Homo sapiens: one gene and its partner. The protein of the gene in region 1 purifies or fractionates together with the protein of each later gene. This does not show direct contact. Each region holds a gene or a part of one and is shown on either strand. Other genes may lie near its edges. The genes, in order: SMAP1 and B3GALT2.

Evidence for each region.
Region 2: the proteins of SMAP1 (region 1) and B3GALT2 purify together in Homo sapiens (co-immunoprecipitation; one large-scale study listed by IntAct). This does not show direct contact.

Annotation. Positions count from the first base shown.
Region 1 is NC_000006.12:70,856,304-70,860,141, forward strand, and holds part of SMAP1 (stromal membrane-associated protein 1), read left to right. Parts: intron 1-375; exon of another isoform or gene 376-555; coding exon 556-727; exon of another isoform or gene 728-1,618; coding exon 1,619-1,926; exon of another isoform or gene 1,927-3,025; coding exon of another isoform or gene 3,026-3,127; exon of another isoform or gene 3,128-3,838. UniProt on the Homo sapiens protein: GTPase activating protein that acts on ARF6. Plays a role in clathrin-dependent endocytosis. May play a role in erythropoiesis.
Region 2 is NC_000001.11:193,178,194-193,181,223, reverse strand, and holds the end of B3GALT2 (beta-1,3-galactosyltransferase 2), read left to right. Parts: coding exon 1-930; 3' UTR 931-2,494; downstream 2,495-3,030. UniProt on the Homo sapiens protein: Beta-1,3-galactosyltransferase that transfers galactose from UDP-galactose to substrates with a terminal beta-N-acetylglucosamine (beta-GlcNAc) residue. Can also utilize substrates with a terminal galactose residue, albeit with lower efficiency.

The DNA of each region.
Region 1 (3,838 bases):
CAGACAATAGATGGTCAAAGTTTTGCTGTACCTTCATTTCTGGATAGATTAGAAGCAGTCTAATATTGTAGTTAAAACTGATTAGATGTATAAAAATCCTATGATACAGGTTTTGAAAAGATAAAACCTTTTAAGTAGCCATTGCAAATCCTCTTACAGTCTGTTGTAGTTGTAGAAATGTTCTTTATTCCAAAGGATACCAGTTTCTTGAAGCAGTAGTTGCTATGGAGTGGTGGTCCTCTCATCTCTAACTATTGTTGAGCCCCAGGATTTGATGAGCAAAAACTTGGTGTCACCTTAGGTAGTAAATGCAACTTACTGTGAAAATGCTTCAGTCTACCTACATTAACAGATTCAAATTAAGAAGTACTGTCTTGATTGTAGATGTTTTTATATGGGCTTGGGCTTGTAAGTGATCCTCTTGAATGGCACCATTTTACCTTCTACAATTGTTTGATTCCTATCTAATTTTATAACTTTATTTGGATTTTAAGTAATGGATAAGCTGCGCTTTACTATGCAGAATTTGATAGCTTATTTTGGTGTTTGTCTCAGGGGACACCCTCTGCACCAGCAGCTGCAACCCTGTCTACAGTAACATCTGGGGATCTAGATTTATTCACTGAGCAAACTACAAAATCAGAAGAAGTGGCAAAGAAACAACTTTCCAAAGACTCCATCTTATCTCTGTATGGCACAGGAACCATTCAACAGCAAAGTACTCCTGGTAATGAATTTTGATATCTGCTTTCAGTGACATTACTAGAAGTACATCCTTTGTAATTATATAATAAGATCAATTATATATCTTTTATTGTTCCATGTAGTGAGTGCTTTTGTTGTTGCAGTTTATACAACTATGAAGCCGAAATGAATGAGCATTAGAATTAAAAAATTAAGAGGCATGTACAGGATTCACAGAACTTTATTTGGAATTAACAAGCTGTTCATAGATCACTAAATGTTGTTTCACAAGCTTATAGAACATGGATTATCTTTGATGAATTATTGAAACGATTTGCATGAAGTTTATGACTGCGTACAGTGTATTTTCTCTGCAGGTAAACAGTCTTGAGTTACCACATGGATTAAAAAAAATCTATGAATTTTTTTGTAATCATAACAAAATATTAGCATAAGCCTTATTGTTTACAGAGTTTTAATCTTTCACACCATTTCCTTTAAAATAATGAGCTGCATTTCACATGTGAGCTAAAATTGTTGGGCAGCCCACTACACCTATTGAAGCGAGATATAGTCAGCTCTCACTTCCCTGTTTCGTACTGGGGGACCAGTGGTACAAATCAGCAATAAAACAGTGTATGATGTCATGCTACATAGTTTGGTCTTCACAGTGGAAGATATTTTGTGTGGCTGTTGCATATGATTTACATTTCTTAATTAAATTTACTCAGGTTAATAACTGATTTGTCTGCATCCTAGAAACAACCAGCTCTCAGGGTTTAGGTGTGGGTTGGTCTGAGTAGTAGGAGCAGCCAAACTGGAATTAAAATGTTTGCTGTGAGTAGTTCAGAAAGGCAATTTTTCTGTGATTATAGAGATGAGTGCAACTACACGTGATAGCTCTGTCTTCATTCATTTTCTTTTTGTGGTGCAGGTGTATTTATGGGACCCACAAATATACCATTTACCTCACAAGCACCAGCTGCATTTCAGGGCTTTCCATCGATGGGCGTGCCTGTGCCTGCAGCTCCTGGCCTTATAGGAAATGTGATGGGACAGAGTCCAAGCATGATGGTGGGCATGCCCATGCCCAATGGGTTTATGGGAAATGCACAAACTGGTGTGATGCCACTTCCTCAGAACGTTGTTGGCCCCCAAGGAGGAATGGTGGGACAAATGGGTGCACCCCAGAGTAAGTTTGGCCTGCCGCAAGCTCAGCAGCCCCAGTGGAGCCTCTCACAGGTAGGGGTCATTTACTTTCTAGCTTCTCCCAAATCAAACCAGATTTATTTTCTAAATCTTTTTTTTTTTTTTTTTTTTTTTTTTTTAAGTCTAGTGATCTGGCAGAAAGAATTCAATAGGGATAATATGTTATAGGGTCAAAAGTATCTATAAATATTATGAAGTTGTATCAGATAGACAAATGATGTGTTATTATCGCTATTTTAGAGTATTCTGTAAAAAAAAGGTTAAACATCTTTCATTTCAAATTGTAATGTAACTGTAACGTGAACACCACTAATGGCCAGAAATTATCTCAGGCATCATGAGACTCCCTCTCTGTCACCTCTGAGATTAGCACTAAGCTTTATCCAGCTTGCTGGTGGGACATTTTTACAGTCCACTTAGACAACTTAGCTTCACTAATAATTTTAGGATCTTTTATTAGAAAATAAAAATCTAGCCTCATATTCTCAAAGCACTATTTTATGAGGGATCTAAGGCTATTTTTCAGGTCGGATGATTACTGCCCCATGGCTCTGTAAAAATTCTTTTTGTTGAGAAACCTTTGTAAAGTTGTATTTTCTTTTTACATACCCTATAATGACTTTTATGTTTAAAAAGAGTACAAAAAGATTCAATTCCCATAAGGTGTGAACCAGACATCCCCTCATATTATAAAATCCTATTTCTACCTAAGTTAGAGCTGAGATAGAACATTTCTATTTCAGGTGCTGTGTTCTGACTTTTCTCTAGCTGCACAGACAAAGGCTCTTAGAGAGGTTCATGCTCCCACTCTTCTTCCTTTTACACTTCCCATTGATGTTCCTCCAGCATTTTGGCAATCTTGGTTTCTGTTTGGTCACTTGTTTTACCTTTAGAGCATTCAGGGAATAGTCTAGAGTGATTTCTAACATTAGCACAATCACTATATATCACAGTTAATTTTGCTACCACCATTTACAAGAATATAGGTAAAACATTGGTCTCTACCCGCTGGGAATCTAAAAAATTGTATGTGCTAAGTGTCAGTCACATGGTCAACATGCTGAAGCACACCCAGCTCAGGTTAAGGTGCTAGATGAACCAGGAAGGAGTTAATACTGGCTCTTACTTCCAGATAATGCAGAAGGGTGATGCTGTTCTCCAGCACTCCATCAGTGCAATCTACTGGCCAATGACAAGGTGGTTAAAATGTCCTTTAGTAGGTATGAAGACGTGATCTGCTTCTTCAGACACTTATGCCTGATTAGTGATGTAGTTTATGTTAGTGTCTTTGAAACTGTAAATAAGTCAAGTCAAATGTATTAAATTAAGAACACAGTCTAACTCTGAGTGTAAGTTTTAAACCCACTCACTATATGGTAAATCTTGCCTTTCCTTCTCTTATCACCAATTTTGGAAGTAAGAGAATCACAGGGTTAAGATGCTTATATATATATATATTTGACTCCAGTCTTGAAGAAAAATACATGTAATCTTATGCTTTATTGCATACAATGAAAATAAATTTTAGATGTTTATGTTGTTAGATCAGCGAGAGAAATAAATGCTTTATGACCACTTTAAAAATATTTAGGAAGTATATAAGATTTTAATAGAGAATAATATCTATCATACAAAGTTTATAGGATAATTTTAGACTATTTTACTTCCTAAAATTTTCTTACTCCTTAGTAGTTAAAGCACAATATCCTAGTGTAGGTGAAAGTTAGTTAGAGTAGCGGACTCATTAAAATCCCAAGATTGCTTTGGTATTTTTTTTTAAGTAAGTTGTGGTTAATCTTTGGGGAAACTGTATCTAGAAAGTAGATAAAGAAGGGAACAAAGTAGCTATTTGCTTTAAGAAATATTTGTATGGTACTCTGTTTTTATTCCAGTGCTTGGACTAGTTGTCACATTAATGAAAAAATGACCAACTGTGTGGCTAAAG
Region 2 (3,030 bases), on another chromosome or scaffold:
AATACACTTAGTGCCAATGGAAGTATTTACAATGAAAAAGGTACTGGACATCCAAATTCTTACCATTTCAAATATATTATTAATGAGCCTGAAAAATGCCAAGAGAAAAGTCCTTTTTTAATACTACTAATAGCTGCAGAGCCTGGACAAATAGAAGCTAGAAGAGCTATTCGGCAAACTTGGGGCAATGAAAGTCTAGCACCTGGTATTCAAATCACAAGAATATTTTTGTTGGGCTTAAGTATTAAGCTAAATGGCTACCTTCAACGTGCAATACTGGAAGAAAGCAGACAATATCATGATATAATTCAACAGGAATACTTAGATACGTACTATAATTTGACCATTAAAACACTAATGGGCATGAACTGGGTTGCAACATACTGTCCACATATTCCATATGTTATGAAAACTGACAGTGACATGTTTGTCAACACTGAATATTTAATCAATAAGTTACTGAAGCCAGATCTGCCTCCCAGACATAACTATTTCACTGGTTACCTAATGCGAGGATATGCACCCAATCGAAACAAAGATAGCAAGTGGTACATGCCACCAGACCTCTACCCAAGTGAGCGTTATCCTGTCTTCTGTTCTGGAACTGGTTATGTTTTTTCTGGAGATCTGGCAGAAAAGATTTTTAAAGTTTCTTTAGGTATCCGCCGTTTGCACTTGGAAGATGTATATGTAGGGATCTGTCTTGCCAAGTTGAGAATTGATCCTGTACCCCCTCCCAATGAGTTTGTGTTCAATCACTGGCGAGTCTCTTATTCGAGCTGTAAATACAGCCACCTAATTACCTCTCATCAGTTCCAGCCTAGTGAACTGATAAAATACTGGAACCATTTACAACAAAATAAGCACAATGCCTGTGCCAACGCAGCAAAAGAAAAGGCAGGCAGGTATCGCCACCGTAAACTACATTAGAAAAGACAATTTTTTTTCAAATGTGCAATTTGTAAATATTGCTAAAAGCATGTATAGTTAGAACTGATTACATCCGTAGGACAAGTTTTAGTTAAAACTCATCACATAAAGAAATTCAAGAAGTATTTTTTTAATTTCTGAAGAAGTTAATTCTTAAAACTATAACATTATATAACAAAAAAGGTTTCCCAAAACAATCTATTTAAAAAACTGTATAAGGAGATTCTGTGTATTAACATGCAATAACAAGCATGCATAAATCAATGGTTCAAGTCTTCTGTTAGGGGCCAATAAAATGTATCTGCATATGTTTTCCACATAAATTTTAATTCAAGAAATGACAGTCAAAAGATCCTTCATTTTAGATTAAGCTTTTCATTTTAATATATAATTTAATGTAAATAAAACATCACTATCAATTTTAAGGAAACTTTTTAATTGTGCAAAGGATAAATTTTTTGACCTATTTTAGGGTTCTAAATGCAATAAGATTTAGTTGAGTTATTCCACAAACACATTATAAAGTTCAGATGTTTCATCAATGCAGTTCTCACGAAAGTATTTACTTTTTAAAAATAACTGAGATATTATTTTAAATTTCTTTTATTAATACTTTCTTTTATTAATATATGGGGGAAAATTATTTTGACATGACGTGGTAAAATGTGAAAAACTAATGTGTCTCAGGCTCAAGTTTTTATAGTTATTAAATGTTTCAAAATAGACAAGTTTTGTTTCCTCATTGATGTTAAGAACCAAACTCCTATTTCAATGAGTTATTGGATTAGACCAATTACTGCACTCTTAAACAGCACCACCATTTAATTTCATGTATATCTAACTTCGAATATATCTGTAAAGATAATCGAAGCAAAAGTAATCACTTAAAGGCACAAATAGGATGTACTGTTGAAAAAGATAAAGAGTGCAGGTGCAGTTTCATTCAACACATTTTTAAGATGCATGTCTGCCAAAATGCAACATACGGGAAGTTTATTTCCTGACAGCAGGTGTACACATGCCAACACTTAATCATTTTATGGCACCTATTTCTTTCTTGGAGTGCCAAGTTTGCAAACCTGCAGTTTTTAATTTGGTAGATGACAAATATTCTGAATCACCAATTAAAAACCTTTTTGGGAGGGATGGGGAAAACTACAAACGTTTGACAAACACAATTCTAGGATGAACAATGTATACAATGCACTTTTATGAAGTTTTTAAAAATAAAGGAAAACAAAAAACTTTACTGAGTGTTATAAGTATTTTCACAATAATTTTGTTTGACTCCATCATGAATTTTAAAATCAAGAAATACCAACCTACTAACTAAAATAGTGTTTTTATTCCATACAAGTATGTAAATCTGTCAATCTTAATTTAGTCAGAATGTTTCTTAATTCTAATAACAATCATTTTTACCTCTTATTCTATTATTAAGGGATAAATCACCAGAAGAGAATTGTAACATTTGTGAAACTTGAAAACACTAAAACTGTTTAAGTGCTTATCTCCATTTCAAATCAGTAGCCTAAGTGTTCTACTCTAAATCAAGTGATTCTGAGAGCTGATCTATGTAACACACCCCAGCTCTTGGATCAAGCCTGTCTTTCACTTAATTTATTCTATATGACTACAGAAATACCAGAATTACTTAATAAAAGTCACACATAAGGGGATAATACCAAATCAGATCAGCATGTTTGACAGAAGACAAAAGGAATCCTTCCCTCAGTGTAGAATAATGCTGATTTATGCTTCAAAAGTTTTAAAAACAGTGTGTGTGTGTGCATACACAGGTGTGTACATAGAAAGAGAACTCAAGTTCTATTTGTCCAAATTATGACTATTTTGCAGGATCTTTAAAAGATAGTAATTTCCATCTGGAAAAAGTTTTTTAAAAAATGACTCATGAAAAACAGATAACAGACACCTAAATTCTTCCTATCTCAAGTTTCAATTTAAAATCTATAAAATTTATAAAATCTATGTAAATTTCTATATTCCTAACATTATCTTGAAAAACGATAGTAATCTGATATCAGACACTGTGAGCTCTCAAAGGCGACTGGATCAAACAGTAAAGTGTCTTTGTACTGT